Linked DNA regions of Homo sapiens. The protein of the gene in region 1 interacts with the protein of each later gene in a pairwise test. Each region holds a gene or a part of one and is shown in the gene's direction. Other genes may lie near its edges.

Evidence for each region.
Region 2: the proteins of FAM13A (region 1) and CFAP97 interact in a two-hybrid assay, tested with the Homo sapiens proteins (one study listed by IntAct).
Region 3: the proteins of FAM13A (region 1) and PPP2R5E interact in a two-hybrid assay, tested with the Homo sapiens proteins (one study listed by IntAct).

What each region holds. Positions count from the first base shown.
Region 1 is NC_000004.12:88,725,441-88,732,194, reverse strand, and holds the end of FAM13A (protein FAM13A), read left to right. Parts: coding exon 1-193; intron 194-766; coding exon 767-868; intron 869-2,091; exon of another isoform or gene 2,092-3,535; coding exon 3,536-3,662; 3' UTR 3,663-6,235; downstream 6,236-6,754.
Region 2 is NC_000004.12:185,193,980-185,201,007, reverse strand, and holds part of CFAP97 (cilia- and flagella-associated protein 97), read left to right. Parts: intron 1-7,028.
Region 3 is NC_000014.9:63,379,357-63,386,384, reverse strand, and holds part of PPP2R5E (serine/threonine-protein phosphatase 2A 56 kDa regulatory subunit epsilon isoform), read left to right. Parts: intron 1-1,813; coding exon 1,814-1,941; intron 1,942-4,227; coding exon 4,228-4,329; intron 4,330-7,028. UniProt on the Homo sapiens protein: The B regulatory subunit might modulate substrate selectivity and catalytic activity, and might also direct the localization of the catalytic enzyme to a particular subcellular compartment.

The sequences.
Region 1 (6,754 bases):
AAGAGGAGGGGTCAGAAGACGATAGCAATGTGAAGCCAGACTTCATGGTCACTCTGAAAACCGATTTCAGTGCACGATGCTTTCTGGACCAATTCGAAGATGACGCTGATGGATTTATTTCCCCAATGGATGATAAAATACCATCAAAATGCAGCCAGGACACAGGGCTTTCAAATCTCCATGCTGCCTCAATGTATGTCATTTTGGTGGTGGTGGTGAAATGTTTTGGTAAAAATAGCTCACTTAAATATTATCTTAGCCTTTGTATCTAAATAAATTAGCTGATAAAATACAAGTGACTACCTGGGGTGTATCTGGATAAAACGGTGATTTTTTAAAAAATTTCTTTTTTTATATGCTTCAGCCCATGTTATTTGAGGGAACTTTTGAGTCTTGTTTAAACAACCAGAAGTTCTCTCTCTAAAGGGCATCGTGTGGTTCTGTACATCACAGCCCATCACTTAACACACGCTGAGCACAGATGTCATCTCTTTCTTTCAAAGAAAAATATGACAAAGTGCCATGGGATTTCACAAGGGCTAAGAATTCCCAAGTAGCAGGAACCCCCAGAAGCTGGATCTGTTGCCAGCATGTTTGGCTTTCAGGAAATGGAAAACATGCATTTCCGCGCCCCCTCAATGCTCTCAGCAGTTTCTGCATTTACTTGCCTCCCCTTTCTGCACAGCTCCTGTTGAGTTACACATTCATCACATTTATGACAACTCAAATTTAACTTAATTTCCTTGCAATGCTTCCTCTCTCTTAGACCTGAACTCCTGGAACACCTCCAGGAAATGAGAGAAGAAAAGAAAAGGATTCGAAAGAAACTTCGGGATTTTGAAGACAACTTTTTCAGACAGAATGGAAGGTAGTGCCTGTCTTCCCCCACCCTCCCTTCCCCCCCGCCGCACCACACACACCCATCCCTCTTGTTTTTCTGTCAGATCTGTGGAATGCCTTCAAAGGGGGGACTCTTCTGCATCCTCCCTGTAACCTGGTCCTTGGGTTTGTGCCCAGGGACACTTAGAGGTTGACTGTGAGATGATGGGATTTGTGTGGACCTCCCAGAAGAAATGCTCTTTGGGTAATGCCCAAGACTAATGCAGATTCAGCTGACATTTATGAAATGAACCTGTCCCATCAAATTCTTATCTACAATGAGCAGCAGGAAGCTGCGTTTCCCGCTGGTGGTGGCACCAACGCTTTTTTCTTAAGAAGCTAGAGGTTAGCCAAGCGGCCGTAGTGGCACACCTGTAGCTCTAGCTACTTGGGAGGCTAAGGCAGGAGGATTGCTTGAACCCAGGAGTTTGAGGCTGCAGGGAGCTGTGGTCTGCTACTGCACTCTATTCTGGGCAATAGAGTGAGACTTCATTTCTAAATAAAAGGAGCTAGAGAAACAAGGGAAAGAGAGATCTAAGTATTACTGATTTTCAAGCTCATTTCAAAAATGAAGGTGATAATTGCCAAGTTTAAATGAAAAATATGTATGAAAATCAGTAAGTCGGCCAGGCGTGGTGGCTCACGCCTGTAATCCTAGCACTTTGGGAGGTCAAGGAGGGTGGATTACATGAGGTAAGGAGTTCAAGACCAGCCTGACCAACATGGTGAAACCCCATCTCTACTAAAAATACAAAAAATTAGCCGGGTGCAGTAGCACAGGCCTGTAATCCCAGCTACTCGAGGCTGAGGCAAGAGAATCACTTGAACCCGGGAGGCCAAGGTTGCAGTGAGCCGAGATCACGCCACTGCACTGCAGCCTGGGCTACAGAGCAAGACTTCGTCTCAAAAAAAACAAAGAAAAGAAAAGCAGTAAATCTACCTGGTTGATGGGCTGCCTCTCGCCAGTGAATTTTAAGGCACAATTTAGTCTTTCATGTTTACAAGCAACAGCACACAAAAATCTTACCGAAAGTCACAGTAGGAGCCTGAGGAAAGAACCAGGAACAGATTTGCATCTCTTACATTGGAGTTAGGTTTTATCATTTTAAATTGGATTTAACCCAGATTACTGAAGCTATGTAAGTATTGTTTCTCTTGAGTCCTCTTTTATACTTCTTGAAAGTTTGGGGAAATGAAAGCACCATAAAAATTAACTTTGTCATTTAAAATATATTGTATTTCAGTTTAGTTTAACAATTATTGTATGAATTTACTTTTAGGATCTCTGATTTGGATATGTCTCATATATTTTTATACCTAAACACTTGCTTTTCATTTCCCACCCATTGCACAGTATTTAGAAAATATAGGTAAGCAAATTTAAGTAGTAATTCCCAAAACAATAATAACCAAAGACAAGTCAGAATTAATGTTTTGACGTGTATCTTTCCAGTCTTTCATCTAAGCCTATTTTTTGGCTTATCCTTTTTTATATTATTCTAAGTCACATTATGCACAGATATCTTATACATGTAGAATTACGCAAACCACCCAGGTTTTAAGAAAATGTCAATGGAGGACGTTAACTTAATTGTCAAAAAAGTTTAGAACTATGAGGGACTTAGGAGATAAGCTCTGGTTCCATGACTTCGTGTCTGAGGAGAGTGAAGCCCCTCAGAGTGCAGTGGGGGCCTGCGTGCCAGATGCTCCAATTCCTGAGCACCTGTTCCTTGCCCTGCCCTCTGCTGAGAAGCCACTAGAATCCTTTCCTAGAACAAGGCAGGGTATGAATAAGATCAGTTTATTTTTAGGTCATTGAACAAATCAAGCCCCATGCTATCCTCCTTACCCATATTTGCCCTTTAATAATAAAGGCAGGAAGCCTATGGTTGAATGTTTGCCATGTGCAATTTCCCATAAAACACAAAGCAGCAGCGCACCGCGTGGTGGCCAAGAGCAGGCAAGTTATCTGATTTCCTGTGCTGGTTTCATCATGTGTAGTGTGTAGAAAATGGCTGCATCTCATCAAGGTGTTATAAGGGTTCTATCAGATCATGGGTACAAAGTACTTAGCACAGGGCTTGACCTATAAGCTCTCAAATACTTGTGCATATAAATATTATGTATGTAAAGTTACTCAATAATAAAGGCTTATTATAATAGTATTATGTAATCCAGCTGCTGAATTCTAACACAGTTTTATGATAAGTAGGAGTATTAACTATCTGTTTTTGGAAAAAAAAAAAAAAAAAAAAACTAAGTTGTGGACCAGTTGCTAATTAAAAATTTAAAATTTCACGAGATGAAATATATAAGAATGAGAAAACATTAAGTATGAATAAAAGATTTTGGTGTATGAGAGCTCAATGTGAATTCATACTTAGCAGAGAGAATTTCTGCATTTCTTAGCCTTCTTATCATACAGGATGCCAGATTAACTATATAAAAACTCAGTTGCATGTTGCCTTCTGGGTGAAACATTTTCATTACTTGTCTAAATCCAGCCCCAGTCTTGAGACCAAGGGCCACTCGGCAACACTGATTCTACAAGTTGATAAACTGCAAAGTTTCTAAACAATGATAATTTGCCCGATGAATAGTATCTAGCAAAGACAGAAAATGATCCTCAGACCCCTTTTTCCTTTATTTGCATTAGAAATGTCCAGAAGGAAGACCGCACTCCTATGGCTGAAGAATACAGTGAATATAAGCACATAAAGGCGAAACTGAGGCTCCTGGAGGTGCTCATCAGCAAGAGAGACACTGATTCCAAGTCCATGTGAGGGGCATGGCCAAGCACAGGGGGCTGGCAGCTGCGGTGAGAGTTTACTGTCCCCAGAGAAAGTGCAGCTCTGGAAGGCAGCCTTGGGGCTGGCCCTGCAAAGCATGCAGCCCTTCTGCCTCTAGACCATTTGGCATCGGCTCCTGTTTCCATTGCCTGCCTTAGAAACTGGCTGGAAGAAGACAATGTGACCTGACTTAGGCATTTTGTAATTGGAAAGTCAAGACTGCAGTATGTGCACATGCGCACGCGCATGCACGCACACACACACACAGTAGTGGAGCTTTCCTAACACTAGCAGAGATTAATCACTACATTAGACAACACTCATCTACAGAGAATATACACTGTTCTTCCCTGGATAACTGAGAAACAAGAGACCATTCTCTGTCTAACTGTGATAAAAACAAGCTCAGGACTTTATTCTATAGAGCAAACTTGCTGTGGAGGGCCATGCTCTCCTTGGACCCAGTTAACTGCAAACGTGCATTGGAGCCCTATTTGCTGCCGCTGCCATTCTAGTGACCTTTCCACAGAGCTGCGCCTTCCTCACGTGTGTGAAAGGTTTTCCCCTTCAGCCCTCAGGTAGATGGAAGCTGCATCTGCCCACGATGGCAGTGCAGTCATCATCTTCAGGATGTTTCTTCAGGACTTCCTCAGCTGACAAGGAATTTTGGTCCCTGCCTAGGACCGGGTCATCTGCAGAGGACAGAGAGATGGTAAGCAGCTGTATGAATGCTGATTTTAAAACCAGGTCATGGGAGAAGAGCCTGGAGATTCTTTCCTGAACACTGACTGCACTTACCAGTCTGATTTTATCGTCAAACACCAAGCCAGGCTAGCATGCTCATGGCAATCTGTTTGGGGCTGTTTTGTTGTGGCACTAGCCAAACATAAAGGGGCTTAAGTCAGCCTGCATACAGAGGATCGGGGAGAGAAGGGGCCTGTGTTCTCAGCCTCCTGAGTACTTACCAGAGTTTAATTTTTTTAAAAAAAATCTGCACTAAAATCCCCAAACTGACAGGTAAATGTAGCCCTCAGAGCTCAGCCCAAGGCAGAATCTAAATCACACTATTTTCGAGATCATGTATAAAAAGAAAAAAAAGAAGTCATGCTGTGTGGCCAATTATAATTTTTTTCAAAGACTTTGTCACAAAACTGTCTATATTAGACATTTTGGAGGGACCAGGAAATGTAAGACACCAAATCCTCCATCTCTTCAGTGTGCCTGATGTCACCTCATGATTTGCTGTTACTTTTTTAACTCCTGCGCCAAGGACAGTGGGTTCTGTGTCCACCTTTGTGCTTTGCGAGGCCGAGCCCAGGCATCTGCTCGCCTGCCACGGCTGACCAGAGAAGGTGCTTCAGGAGCTCTGCCTTAGACGACGTGTTACAGTATGAACACACAGCAGAGGCACCCTCGTATGTTTTGAAAGTTGCCTTCTGAAAGGGCACAGTTTTAAGGAAAAGAAAAAGAATGTAAAACTATACTGACCCGTTTTCAGTTTTAAAGGGTCGTGAGAAACTGGCTGGTCCAATGGGATTTACAGCAACATTTTCCATTGCTGAAGTGAGGTAGCAGCTCTCTTCTGTCAGCTGAATGTTAAGGATGGGGAAAAAGAATGCCTTTAAGTTTGCTCTTAATCGTATGGAAGCTTGAGCTATGTGTTGGAAGTGCCCTGGTTTTAATCCATACACAAAGACGGTACATAATCCTACAGGTTTAAATGTACATAAAAATATAGTTTGGAATTCTTTGCTCTACTGTTTACATTGCAGATTGCTATAATTTCAAGGAGTGAGATTATAAATAAAATGATGCACTTTAGGATGTTTCCTATTTTTGAAATCTGAACATGAATCATTCACATGACCAAAAATTGTGTTTTTTTAAAAATACATGTCTAGTCTGTCCTTTAATAGCTCTCTTAAATAAGCTATGATATTAATCAGATCATTACCAGTTAGCTTTTAAAGCACATTTGTTTAAGACTATGTTTTTGGAAAAATACGCTACAGAATTTTTTTTTAAGCTACAAATAAATGAGATGCTACTAATTGTTTTGGAATCTGTTGTTTCTGCCAAAGGTAAATTAACTAAAGATTTATTCAGGAATCCCCATTTGAATTTGTATGATTCAATAAAAGAAAACACCAAGTAAGTTATATAAAATAAATTGTGTATGAGATGTTGTGTTTTCCTTTGTAATTTCCACTAACTAACTAACTAACTTATATTCTTCATGGAATGGAGCCCAGAAGAAATGAGAGGAAGCCCTTTTCACACTAGATCTTATTTGAAGAAATGTTTGTTAGTCAGTCAGTCAGTGGTTTCTGGCTCTGCCGAGGGAGATGTGTTCCCCAGCAACCATTTCTGCAGCCCAGAATCTCAAGGCACTAGAGGCGGTGTCTTAATTAATTGGCTTCACAAAGACAAAATGCTCTGGACTGGGATTTTTCCTTTGCTGTGTTGGGAATATGTGTTTATTAATTAGCACATGCCAACAAAATAAATGTCAAGAGTTATTTCATAAGTGTAAGTAAACTTAAGAATTAAAGAGTGCAGACTTATAATTTTCATAAGTACTTTTATTGTGTTCAGTCTGGCGTAAACGTTGAAATAGATGTTTATATTAAGTATGATATCATTATGTTTCATCTTTGAATCATTTAGTTCAGATTCACTTTCTAAGACTTGTAGGTGCAAGATTTAGGATAAGGGACAGCTTAGAAGTTTTTCAAGATGGTAGAAGTTTGTCCTGTGCTGCTTTAAAAAAAATAATAAAAATTTAAAAAGCTAGCACAATTTTGGTGACCTCCCAAATGAGGGAAAATTTCCGTGAAAGACCAAATTTCAAACTGGAGTACTAAAAATTATTTTTTTAATTACCAGCTAGGATGTTGTCAGCTGTTAAGATTTCTTCCATTTGCCTACCAGTTCAAAGTCAAAAGAAGATTATTACTCATTGCAGGGATCAGTGATGTCTCTGTAACATCAGTGTAATTTTTGCTTTGTCTCATAATTCATTGCTTGGGTGGCAGCGGAATAGCCTCTTGCAGGGTGTGCCTGCTCCCAGGTGTGACATTTCCAGC
Region 2 (7,028 bases), about 96 Mb from region 1:
TCTCAAACCCTGCCGCTGCTTTATTAGCTAAGTATACAGAATATTCTAAATCATTTGTTGTCATTTCAACTACATTTACAGCTTCTTCAGGAGTAAATTCCATCTCAAGAAACTACTTTCTTTGCTCATCCATAAGAAGCAAGTCCTCATCTGTTCAAGTTTTATTGTGAGATTGCAGCAATTCAGTTACATCTTGAGGCACCACTTATTTTTTCTTTTTTTTGACAGGGTCTTGTTCTGTCACCCAGGCTGCAGTGCTTTGGCATGATCCCAGGTCATTGCAGCCTCAACCTCCCCAGCCCAAGTGATCCTCCTGCCTCACAGCCTCTACAGGCACGTGCCACTGCAACCCAGCTTTTTTTTTTTTGAGACAGAATCTCACTCTGTCACCCGCTGGAGTGCCGTGACGCAAGCTCGGTTCACTGCTGCAACCTCTACCTCCCAGGTTCAAGTGATTCCCATGCCTCAGCCTCCCGAGTAGCTGGGATTACAGACATGTGCTACCACACCTAGCTAATTTTTGTATTTTTAGTAGAGACGGAGATTCACCCTGTTGGCCAGGCTGGTCTCGAACTACTGTCCTCAAGTCATTTGCCTGCCACAGCCTCCCAAAGTGCTGGGATTATAGGCGTGAGCCACCGTGCCCAGCTAATTTTGTAGTTTAGTTTTTTCTTTTAAGAGACGGGATCTCACTATGTTGTCCAGGCTGGTCTAAAACTTCTGGGCTCAACTGGTCCTCCTGCCTTGGCCTTCTAAAATACCAGGCTCCACTTCTAATTCTAGTTCCCGTGCCATTTCTACCACAGCTGCAGTTCCTTCCCCAGTTAAGTCTTAAATCCCTTAAAGTTATCCATAAGGGTTAGAATCAGCTTCTTCCAAACTCTTGTTGATGTTGATATTTTGACCTCCTCCTATGAATCATAAGTGTTCTTAATGGGGAAGGTTTTCAATTTATTTTGCTCAGATCCGTCAGAGGAATTATTATCTGTGACAAATATGGCCTTACAAAATGTATTTCTTGAAAAGTAAGACTTGAAATTTGACTTACTCCTTGAACCATGGGCTGCAGAGTGGATGTTGTTAGCAGGCGTGAAAACATTAATCTTGCACATCTTCATTAGAGCTATTGGGTGACCAGGTACATTGTCAATGAGCAGTAATATTTTGAATTTTTTGTCTGAGCAGTCGATCTCAACAGTGGGCTTAAAACATAAAGTGAATTATGGCTGTAAATAGGTGTGCTGTCATTTGGGCTTTTTGTTTTATATATAGACCACAGGCAGAGTAGATTTAGCATAATTCTTAAGGCCCTTAAGATTTTTTCTTTTTTGTTTTTTTTGGACAGAGTCTTGCTGCCTCACCCAGGCTGAAATGCACTGGCACAATCTTGGCTCACTGCAACCTCCACCTCCTGGGTTCAAGTGATTCTCATGCCTCAGCCTCCCGAGTAGCTGAGACTATTAATATAAAAATTAGCCCCTGGCTAACTTTTGTTATTTTTAGTGGAGACAGGGTTTCACCATGTTGGCCAGGCTGGTCTGGAACTCCTGACCTCAGGTGATCCACCTGCCTTGGCCTCCGAAAGTGCTTGGATTATAGGTGGGAGGCACCGCACCCAGATTTTTCTTTTCTTTTTTGAGACGGAGTCTTGCTCTGTCACCCAGGCTGTAGTGCAGTGGCCGGATCGCGGCTCACTGCAACCTGCCTCCTGGGTTCAACCTATTCTCCAGCCTCAGCTTCCCCAGTAGCTGGAATTAACAGGTACATGCCACTACTCCTGGCTAATTTTTCTCTTTTTGTAGAGATGGGGTTTCGCCCTGTTGCTCAGGCTGGTCTCCATCTCCTGGCCTCAAGTGATCCGCCCGTCTCAGCCTCCCAAAGTGCTGGAATTACAGGTGGGAGCCACTGTACCCAGCCTAAGGGCCCTAATATTTTTGAAATGGTAAATGAGCACGGGCTTCATTTTAAAGTCACCAGCTCCATTAGCTCTTAATAAGAGTCAGCCTGTTCTTTGAAGTGTTGAGACCAGGTATTGACTTCTCCCTCTAGCTATGAAAATCCTAGATGGTTAGCATCCTTTTCCAATGGAAGGCTGTTTCGTCTGCACTGGAAATCTGATGTTTATTGTAGTCACATTCAGCAATTCTCTTAGCTAGATCTTCTGCAGCTTCTCCATCAGCACTTGCTGTTTTACCTTGTACTGTTTTGTCTTTTTTTTGAGATGGAGTTTCGCTCTTGTTGCCCAGGCTGGAGTGCAATGACGCGATCTCGGCTTACTGCAACCTCCATCTCCTGGCTTCAAGTGATTCTCCTGCCTCAGCCTCCTCTGTAGCTGGGATTACAGGCATGCGCCACCACACCCGGCTAATTTTGTATTTTTAGTAGAGATGGGGTTTCACCATTTTGGTCAGGCTGGTCTTGAACTCCTGACCTGAGGTGATCTGCCCATCTCGGCCTCCCAAAGTTCTGGGATTACAGGCGTGAGCCACCATGCCTGGCTTACCTTGTACTTTTATGTGATAGAGTAGGCTTCTTTTTCTTCCTTTCTTTCTTTTTTTTTTTTTTAAGACAGAGTCTCACTCTGTCACCCAGGCTGGAGTGTAGTGATGCAATCTTGGCTCACTGCAGCTTCTGCCTTCCCAGTTCAAAGGATTCTTGTGCCTCAGCCTCCCAAGTAGCTGGGACTTCAGGCTCCTGCCACCACACCTGGCTGGTTTTTGTATTTTTAGTAGAGATAGGGTTTCACCGTGTTGGCCAGGCTGGTCTTGAACTCCTGACTTCAAGTGATCTGCCCACTTCAGCCTCCGGAAGTGTTGGGATTATAGGCGTGAGCCACCACACCCGGCTGAGCAGGCTTCTTTTCTTAAACCTTATGAGACAGCCTCAGGTAGCTTGAGATTTCTACATCGTCTTTACCTCTCTCGGCCTTCATAGAATTGAAAGTGAGTGAGGGCCTTGCTTTGGACTAGGCTTTGGCTTAGGGGAATGTGGTGGCTGGCTTGGTGTATCCAGACCATTCAGACTTTCTCCATATCAGCAGTAAGGCTCTTTCGCTTTCTTATTCCCATGTTCGCTGAAGTAGCAGTCTTAATTTCCTTCAAGAATTTTTCCTTTGCTTTCACAACTTGGCTAACTGGTGCAAGAGGCCTAGCTTTTGGCCTGTCTCCTGGACTTTCAGCATACCTTCCTCACTAAGCTTAATCATTTCTAGCTTTTGATTTAAAATTTTCTAAGGGATGGGAGTTGGAATAATTTGGATGTTAAGTGGACTAGGAAAATTTAAACTTTTCGCGGTGGCTCACACCTGTAATCCCAGCACTTTGGGAGGCCAAGGCGGGCGGATCCCGAGGTCAGGAGATCAAGACCATCCTGGCTAACACGGTGAAACCCCATCTCTACTAAAAATACAAAAATTAGCCGGGTGTGGTGGCACGTGCCTGTAATTCCAGCTACTCGGGAGGCTGAGGCAGGAGAATCCCTTGAAGCAGGGAGTCTGAGGTTGCGGTGAGCCGAGATCACGCGCCACTGCGCTCCAGCCTGGGAGACTCAGAGAGACTCTGTCTCAAAAAAAAAAAAAAAATTCAAAAACAACTTTTCTTTTAATATATTCGCCAGTAAAATCCAGCAGAGACATTCAGTGTAATAGTCACGTGGCTGTTAATAAGTTTATATACATATGTGTAATATTAATTCTGGGCCAAGAATTAATAGAAACTTATTACTTGATTGTGAGTTAGTAAAATTACTCTTTTGTTATGTTTAAGATCTCTTCATTTCTTCAGTGTAATCATCCATCTCTTATAGCTAAATAATTTTGTGATTTCAGTTTCTTCAAATTTCAAGAAAATGTTTATTTTTTATATTTGTAATTTAAGCTACATGTCTTTTTTTTTTTTTTTTTTTTTAATTAAGAGGGAGTCTCGCTCTATTGCCCAGGATGGAGTGCAGTGGCAAAATATCAGCTCACTGCAACCTCTGCCTCCTGGATTCAAGCAATTCTCCTGCCTCAGCTTCTTGAGTAGCTGGGATTACAGGCGCCTGCCACCACACCCAGCTAATCTTTGTATTTTTGTAAAGATAAGGTTTCACCACGTTGGCCAGGCTGGTTTTGAACTCCTGACCTCAAATAATCCATTCACCTCAGCTTCCCAAAATGCTGGGATTACAGGCGCAACCCACTGCGCTTGGCCTTAAACTACATTTCTTCAACTCTGGTTCCTGATTTATTGTAGTGAGGCCTTAATCTATTAGCAGAGTTTTCCTAGACTCTGTCATATTACCTATGACACTTGACACTGTCTAATACCACCCAAAGTTTAACCTTTCATTCCATCTTTATGTATCATAGTACATTACCTTTTGATGAAAGCTTTTTATCTCCATAGATCAGTGGCATTTCCAACCCTTGCCTGAGACTCTCAGGAATGTGAAGCTGGTTTTACATCAAGGCCTAGTACACTCAATGCATTTAAGTAATAGAAATGATGGTTTCATGAAACTTACTCTTATAATATGTAATGCACTCTTTTTTTTTTTTTTTTGAGACGGACTATCCTTCTGTCCCCCAGGCTGGAAGCATGATCTCAGCTCACTGCAACCTCCGCCTGCCAGGTTCAAGTGATTCTCCTGCCTCAGCCTCCCGAGTAGCTGGGATTATAGGCACGTGCCACCACACCCAGCTAATTTTTTATATTTTTGGTAGAGACAGGGTTTCATCATGTTGGCCAGGCTGGTCTTGAACTCCTACCTCAAGTGATCTGCCCACCTCGGCCTCCCAAAGTGCTGGGATTACAGGCGTGAGCCACTGCACCTGGCCTATAATGCACTCTTGATTATTACACTGTGTTCTACTTCGTCAGTTTAATGATGGACATGAGCTACTGAATTGATTTTAAACTGGATTGTGACCTGTAGTTTATAAAATATTGCTCTGGGCTATGCTATTAAACCGTTTACTTTTGAAATTTGAAGAAACAATTTAAAATTTTTAATTGCAAAGATATTCTTAACCACACAACAAAGTAAGAAAGGAAAAAACAACAACCACAGTTCTTTTTAGAGTCCAGAGTGCTCACCATTACACTGTGGGGTATCCACAGTTCTTTTTATTCCACTCCTTGACATTTTGTTTTCAAAGGTGAATTATCTCACAAAAAAAGGTGACATTTTTGGGAGTTTAATGACAGTGTTATAAGACCTATTCACCATTCAGTGGCTATTTTAGTTTGTTTTTCCTTTTACATTCAAGTGGGCAAAATTAGATTATGATCAGCCATAGTCTTTACGTTTGTGATGACTCAAGATCGCAGGCCTCTATCCGAGTTTTTATATTTCTCCTTCCCCTGAGCACACTACTCCTCTCCCCTCCCCTCATGAGTTATACTCATGTTTAATGTGTATCCTTCCAATCCATGTTCTATAACTTGGCTTGTATGTTTGTGCTCATGAAGAATATAGCATTGTTTTGTATATGTTTTAAGTTTTATGTAATTGTATCATTGCTTGCTTATTTATTTGTTTATTTTGAGACAAGGTCTTGCCCTGTAGCCCAGGCTGGAGTGCAGTGGTGTGATGATGACTCATTGCATTATCAACCTCCTGTGCACAGGTGATCCTTCTACCTCAGCCTCCTCAGTAGCTGGGACTCCAGGCACACCACTATGCCCAGCTAATTTTTATTTTTTAATTTCTTGTAGCAACGGGGTCTCATTATGTGGTCTGGAACTCCTGGGCTCAAGCAGTCCTCCCACCTTGGCCTCCCTAACTGCTGAGATTACAGTCATGAGCCATGGTGCCAGCCTCGTTGCTTTTTAAATTCTGCTTTTTTATTCAGTGTTATTTTTGTAGATCTCAGTGTATCCTTTTTGGCAGATATGTGCTTACACGACATTTTATTTATTCATTTTCCTCTTAATAGACAGTAAAGTTGTTCCTCATGCATTGCTACTGCAAACAGTAGTAGATGCTGTGCTGTCGTGAACATCCTGTGTACATGCCCAGGATCGCACAACTGGGAAGTAGCAGAATCATATTTTGAGTCTGGGTGTGTCTGACTCCATTGATTCGTTTCAACCACTGAGCAGACTCCCACTCATCACTTATGTGCCTAATTTATTACACAAACACTATTATGGTAACAGTAATGGAACTATAATGGGGTTGTATGTCATTTTTCTTTTAAAGGTCAATTCTTAACTTATGGCCTCCTCTCCCCTAGTTTTGCTTTAACTGTAAATTGTATTATTAATTCAGTATAGAAAAGTTTTGTATTCTGTATTTTTCATGTTCATACATCATCTAAATCAAGGGTCTACAAGCTGGGCACAGTGGTATGCACCTGTAGTCCCAGCTGCTCTGGAGGCTGAGGTGGGAGGATCACTTGAGCCCAGGAGTTGGAGGCTGCAGTGAGCTAGAATCCTGTCACTGTACTCCAGCCTGGGCGATGGAGTGAGGACCTGTTTCTTTAAAAAATTTAAATAAATCTATCAACCAAGGATCTACAAACTTTTCTTTTTTTTGAGATGGAGTCTCACTCTTGTCGCCCAGGCTGGAGTGCAATGGTGCAATCTCAGCTCACTGCAACTTCTGCCTCCTGCATTCAAGTGATCCTCCTGCCTCAGCCTCCCTAGTGGCTGGGATTACAGGCACGCACTGCCACACCCGGCTAATTTTTGTATTTTTAGTAGAGAAGGAGTTTCGCCATGTGGACCGGGCTGGTCTCGAACTCCTGACCTCAGGTGATCCACCCGCCTCGGCTTCCCAAAGTGTTGGGATTACAGGCGTGAGCCACTGCGCCTGGCCTACAAACTTTTCAGTAAGGGATCAGATGCTAAGTATTTTAGTCTCTGTGGGCCATAGGGTCTCAATCACAGCTACTTAGCTCTGCAGTCGTAGTGTGAAAGCTGGGGGAGACAATACATATACCCATCAGTGGGGCTGTGTTCCAATAAAACTTTATTTACAAAAACAGATGGCAGACAAGATTTCGTTTACGGACAGGTAGTTTGCTGACTCGTGATCTAAGTGAT
Region 3 (7,028 bases), on another chromosome or scaffold:
TTCTCTGAGTCTCAGATTCTTCATCCACAAAATAGAAAAGTAATGGTACCAACTCTGTTGGTTGTGAGGAAATGAGATATTATATATGTGGGACACTTAGCACAGTGCCTGGCATATAGTGAACATGCAGTAATGATTGTTTTCTTTGTACTCTCAGGGTCTGGTGCCTAATGAGTCTCAGGGTTTTGTTTTGTTTTTTGAACCAAGCTGAATAATGTAAATGGAAAAATTCTGTTTTCTCAGTGTCTTTCGGTAGATACATCTTATACCATTTTGTTCTCTTCTAAAACAGGGCTTCTTAATCTGTATAAATGAAGGAAGCCACCCCTTTTTCCCTTTTCCCCTGTAACTACCCTTTTTAGAGATTTTAGGTTTTGTTTTTGAGATGTTCTTTTGAATTCATGAAATCCAAGATGAGCCAATCAGGCCCAGCAGACCAAATTAGAGCCAGTTGATAGCATGGTGGGCAGAGAAAAGGGATCTAAGAGAGCAGAGAGGGTAGGTGCAGCCAGTGTCCCTGAGACCAGAAACTGAGCAGACATCTCCTGGCTTGCACAGGAAGGGACCAGAAACAAACTCTGGAAGAAGCCCTAGAAATGAGGCCCCAGTCTTTACCATATTGTCAGTGTAACCTTGCCTACATTACTCAGTCTCCCTGAGTCTCTGTGTCCTCACCTGTAAAATGAGCACAATGGTATCTCCTTCTGGGATGGTGGTAAGGATGATACATTCTACTTGCTGTGTAGGCACAGTGCCTGCCCATAGGAGGTACTTAGTAAATATTGGCCGCTCTACAGGGATGAGCAACTGTGGGTGTTCCTCAGTAGCTGTGACTGAATGCTAACCATATGCTGGGCCCTGGGTTCGATCTAAGTGTGTGTGATGAAAAACATAAGAAAGGGGACCAGTGAGATGTGCTAAAGTGATGTCAGGAAAGTGTGGAATCAGATGACATGGGCAGAATTAGAGAAGAATATAAATTAACAGGAAAACTTCTTTTCCTTCCCTGAGTCGATGAACCACTTGAACCACTCTGGACTTTTTTTTTGGTGGGAGGAGAAGACACGGTCTTGCTCTGTCACCCAAGCTGGAGTTCAGTGGCATGATCTCCACTCACTGCAACCTCCGCCTCCCAGGCTCAAGCAGTCCTCCCACCTCAGCCTCCCAAGTAGGTGGGACTATAGGCACATGCCACCAATCCCGGCTAATTTTTGTGTTTTTGTAGAGGCGAGGTCTCCCCATGTTGCCCAGGCTGGTCTCAGACTCTTGGGCTCAAGTGATCTGCCTGCCTTGGCCTCCCAAAGTGCTGGGATTACAGGTGTGAGCCACCGTGCCTGGCCCACTTTGGAATTTTCCAAGAGATTAAAAATCCACAAACATTTAAAATGTGGGCCAGGCACGGTGGTTCACGCCTGTAATCCCAACACTTTTGGGAGGCTGAGGTGGGCGGATCACGAGGTCAGGAGATCGAGACCATCCTGGCCAATGTGGTGAAACCCCGCCTCTACTAAAAATACAAACATTAGCTAGGCATAGTGGCATGTGCCTGTAATCCCAGTTACTCGGGAGGCTGAGGCAGGAGAATCGCTTGAACCCGAGAGGCGGAGGTTGCAGAGAGCCGAGATCGCGCCACTAGCGAGACTCCCATCTCAAAAAATATATATATATTAAAATGTGATTAATATTTAATTTTACCTCTAATTGAATGATTTACAAATAGCCTTTTGAAATACTTTTGTTTGGAAAGATTTATAATTTTGTTTTATCTTTGTCTTTTTCTCTCTCTTAACATTTTATTTTTCTTTTCCCAAAGGTGGCAGAAAGAGCACTCTATTATTGGAATAATGAATACATCATGAGTTTGATAGAAGAAAACTCTAACGTCATCCTTCCCATCATGTTTTCCAGCCTTTATAGGATTTCAAAAGAACATTGGAATCCGTAGGTTTTCAGTTTCTTTCCTCCGTTCTCTTCCTCCCTTCCTCTCTTTCTTTCCCTTCAGCCTTATTATGTGCCAGATGCTGTCCTTGTTGCTGAAGACGTATGTGAAAAGATAAAATCCTTACCTTCTGGGGATTCACTGACTGGAGAAAATAAACAGATACTTTAACAAAATACCGGTTAAAGTATCTGTTTACTAGACAGGCTTCTTGATCTGTCTATGAAGGTAGCAGATCTTTTGGGGAGGCACTGCAGCTGAGAGGAGAGGTGTGTAGATACTGACAGCATGGCCATGCTTAGACTGAATCTGAAAGGAATTTGGCAGGTGGATGGCATGGGGAGAGCCCTTTCAGACAGTGGGTCCATCCATCATGTTAAAAGGCACAAAGATGTAAAAAGCAGCTGTCAGTTTCTGAGACCTGTGAGTTTGGGAGGGCTGAGGCACAAGGTCTTTTGGGGAGGGTGCTAGAGGATGTGGCTAGAAAAGACTGTGGGACTCGTGTGAGCCTTCACCAAGTAGATGATGAGGAAGTACTGAAGGGTTGTTAAGTGGGGAAGTGGTCTGACTAGGTTTTCATTTTAGTGTGATCTATTTAACAGCCAACTCAGTCGCTATATGTATCTCTTGGAAAGGAAGGAGTTTAAAATCATCAAGGGAAGTTTAACATCCAGCCCTATGAAAGTTAAAGCATTCTGAATTTGAATGCCTTTACATTTTTCTCTGTGGAATAGAAGGAAAATTTAATGTGGTATTTAAAAATTGGGAGATACAATTCAGTATATTCATAATATGTTTATCTTTAAAAATTTTGCATGTAATTATAAAATATCACATTTCTAATTTTTCAAATTTGCCTAATTATATTAATAGAACTTGTAAAAATAAGGAGCTGATAAACAGTTAAGTCCCTTTATACAGATAGTCTCTTGAGGACCTAGAGAACGGTTCTAGCAAGTGTCTGTAACTACTCAGTATACTACATTTGGTGCTTTCCCATCACTGCCCTTGGGAGGAAGGTCATTCTGGAACCTTAACAGAAAAGAACTTAAATTTTCCTTTTAATGGCACAAGGCAGAAGCTACACAGCAAGTGTACTTTCTTGTAAATGTTTTGGAAACATCAGACTCATGGTTTATTTAATATATGGCTAATTTTTACCAATGCATTTTTCAGTGGTATTAGGAGCATGTTTGTTGCAAAACGGAAGCAACGGATATTTTTGCAAAAGGAAAAGCTATTTAGACTCTAGTCTGAAGCTATCAAGCCCATCATAACCTTGTCCTCACATTGCCCAAGAGCTAATTCTTGTTAAGTATGGGCTACCATTTTGGCTGTTTAGCTGTATAGTGTCCCATAGCTAATAGCAACCATCCCAGCTTGCCAGTTATCAGCATATATTTTGGGTCAGCAGGACTGGTGCAGATCAGAGCTAGACAGATAATTCATATTGAACCACCCAACCTACATGAGGGCTTGATTTCATTTCTTTGGATAAGAATAATTTATATATATACACATATATATATAACATTTGTTTCTAGGGAAGTAGCTTCTGATTTTGATGAATTATGTGTTATTTAGAAAATAGAATTCTATGCAAATTCAGATGTCTAAGGTTAGTGCTATCACAGATCCTTATTTTAGGGTGAAATTGCTTTACTATTATACTTGCCTTTTTATTAAATGAAATTATCAAATGCCCACAGGCAGCTCTATTCTGGGTGCCAATAATTAGAAGGGCAGGCCAGGTGTGGTGGCTCACGCCTATAATCCCAGCACTTTGGGAGGCCGAGGCAGGCAGATCACCTGAGGTTGGGAGTTCGAGACCAGCCTGACCAACATGGAGAAACCTCGTCTCTACTAAAAATACAAAATTAGCCAGGTGTGGTGGCTCGCTTCTGTAATCCCAGCTACCCAGGAGACTGAGGCAGGAGAATTGCTTGAACCCAAGAGGCGGAGGTTGCGGTGAGCCAAGATGGTGCCATTGCACTCCAGCCTGGGCAACAAGAGCGAAACTCCGTTGCAAAAAAAAAAAAAAAGAAATTAGAAGGGCAAAGTTAGATTTTTTTTCTAGTTCTACCACCCCTCAGAAAATTATCTTGCCTTGAAATCTCTTGATGTGGAAATGAACTGTAGGTCATTTTCAGTTGTTCCAACTAAAAAAGGATACAGACAGTGTGCAGTACGAGAAATCATTCAGACAAAAGTTGTGCTTTTGCTTTCTTCATTCAGTATCCCATTTTATAAGACTAACTAACACACTCCTTTTTTTCTGTGCTTTCCAGGGCTATTGTGGCGTTGGTGTACAATGTGTTGAAGGCATTTATGGAAATGAACAGCACCATGTTTGACGAGCTGACAGCCACATACAAGTCAGATCGTCAGCGGTAACTTTTTAAAGCTTTTTTGTCAGCTGTGCATAAAGCTATTGAGTTTTTTCCTTGCTCTTTGCTGAAGTTGCCTAATTGTACCCCAAATCTTAAGCAGCACAATTTTGTTTACAGTCATGCATTACTTAACAACCAGTATATGTTCTGAGAAATGCATCCTTAGGCAATTGTATTGTGTGAACATCATAAGTATACAGTAATTACACAAACCTAGATGGTGTAGCCTACTATGACACACCTGAACTATGTAGTATTGCCTGTTCTTCCCAGGCTACAAACCTGTGGTGAATACCGTAGCCAATTGTAACACAAATCACTAGGCAGTAGGCCTTTTTCAACCCTGTTAAAATTTTATGGGACCACCGTGGTATATGTGGTCTGTGTTGACCGAAATGTTGTTATTTGGCACATGACTGTATTTATATATTCATTTTTGCACACTTATTAACTGTGTCTTTATTTATTTATTACTGTGCCACTGAGTAACAAAGCTTCCTGACACTCATTTTGATAAAGCCCGCTTTCTTTCCTTTCTTTAATAATATTTCACTTCTGCCTCAGGGTTAAGAGCCCAGCATTTAACTGGTATTTTAGGTTCACTTAAAGGGACCATCAGGTAGTTTGCTCTCTGGGATTCACTCCCACTCTGAACTTACTTGAAGTATAATTGGGCAGATCTTGTACTTCACTCCAATAGCAGGGGGAATGAGGCACCATTTATCTAGCTCTTGGGCCCAGGACTTACTAGAACCCAACAAATTTATTACAATTTAAAGATCAGTGAAAAGAACATGAAGGTTAATAGTCTGGTATTAACCAGAAATGTTTGAGACCATATGGGAGAACAAACCAGTGGAACTCTTTGCAATAAATGCTTATGGCTTAGTAAAAATCTTGTCCAATGCATTCTACTTTCCAAAAGATGTACTTGGGGAGATTATAGAAGTCTAGAGAGCTCTTAGTAGTTGCGCCTGTGGTTTGGCTTTGATCATCCATAAGCAGATGTCAGCTTTGTATATCATAAAGCTATGGACCTTAGAGGACCCAGAGATGTGTGCGAGTGTTCATACCCAGGGTCTTGCTGAACCTCTCTGGTTCCCTTGGTGCTTTGCTTTGTCTCATTTTTAGTCTGTCAACTTGCATTTTATTGATAAAAAGAGCAATGAGGGGAAAGGTTTGATGGCAGAGGGACCATTGCAATGATTTTTTTGTTTTAAGTTACCAGGGATGTGGTTTATGAAAACCAACTTAATTATGGAATGTGGTGAGTATTTAGCTGAGAATCTCAGAAGAGGCTGGGATTTTTTACCCAGAATATTGGGATTATTATCAATTATGGGATATGTTATTCCATACTCACAGTTTAAACAACTTTTTTTTTTTTGTTTTTTGAGATGGAGTCTTGCTCTGTTGCCCAGGCTGGAGTGCAGTGGCGCGATCTCAGCTCACTGCAAGCTCCGCCTCCCAGGTTCATGCCATTCTCCTGCCTCAGCCTCCTAAGTAGCTGGGACTACAAGCACCCGCCACCACGCCTGGCTAATTTTTTGTATTTTTACTAGAGACAGGGTTTCACTGTGCTAGTCAGGATGGTCTCGATCTCCTGACCTCATGATCCACCTGCCTCGGCCTCCCAAAGTGCTGGGATTACAGGCGTAAGCCACCGCGCCCAGCCCTAAACAACTTTTAATTCAGTATATTAGCGATTGTTGCAAATTATAAATTTATGATAACCCTCCTTGCCCCAAACTTAAAATCTTTAAAGGATGTTACTTAAAAAAACGGCCAAGGGTACATTTTAATACTGTGTTGCATCGTTAAAGGTGCTTTGTGCATAACATCTTCTCTGAAAGCACATTATTATTATCCTAGTTGAACCAGGATTAAATCCGTAGAATCTCATCAAGAATATTGAAGAACTTGGCTGGGCACGGTAGCTCACGCCTGTAATCCCATCACTTTGGGAGGCTGAGGCGGGCGGGTCATCTGAGGTCAGGAGTTCGAGACCATCCTGGCCGAATGGTGAAACCCTGTCTCTACTAAAAGTATGAAAATTAGCCAGGCACGGTGGCATGCGCTTGTGGTCCCAGCTACTAGGGAGACTGAGTTGGGAGGGTCAGTTGAACCCGGGAGGTGGAGGTTGCAGTGAGCTAAGATCATGCCACTGTACTCCAGCTTGGACATTGGAGTGAGACTCTGTCTCAAAAAAAAAAAAAAAAAAAAAAAAAAGAGAGAGAATATTGAAGAACAACTTATTTCCACTCAAATTATTTGGTTTGTATTTAGTGAACTTCAATAATAAAACTATTTTCTGGTTATTATCTAAACTAAATAGACTAAACCCTTGAAAAAGATGAGAATTAACTAAGGGGACCAGGAATAGATAAAACTATTATTTTATCTATTCCTGGTTGAGGTTGATTATGATATTCTGGCATATTACAGTTATTTATAATGAGTGTACTTTCTTAATGAGAAAATGGGGGCCAGGCGTAGTGGCTCACGCCTGTAATCGCAGCACTTTGGGAGGCCAAGGCAGGCGGATCACCTGAGGTTGGGAATTTGCGACCAGCCTGACCAACATGGAGAAACTCCATCTCTACTAAAAAATACAAAATTAGCCGGGCGTGGAGGCACATGCCTGTAATCCCAGCTACTCAGGAGGCTGAGGCAGGAGAATCACTTGAACCCGGGAAGGG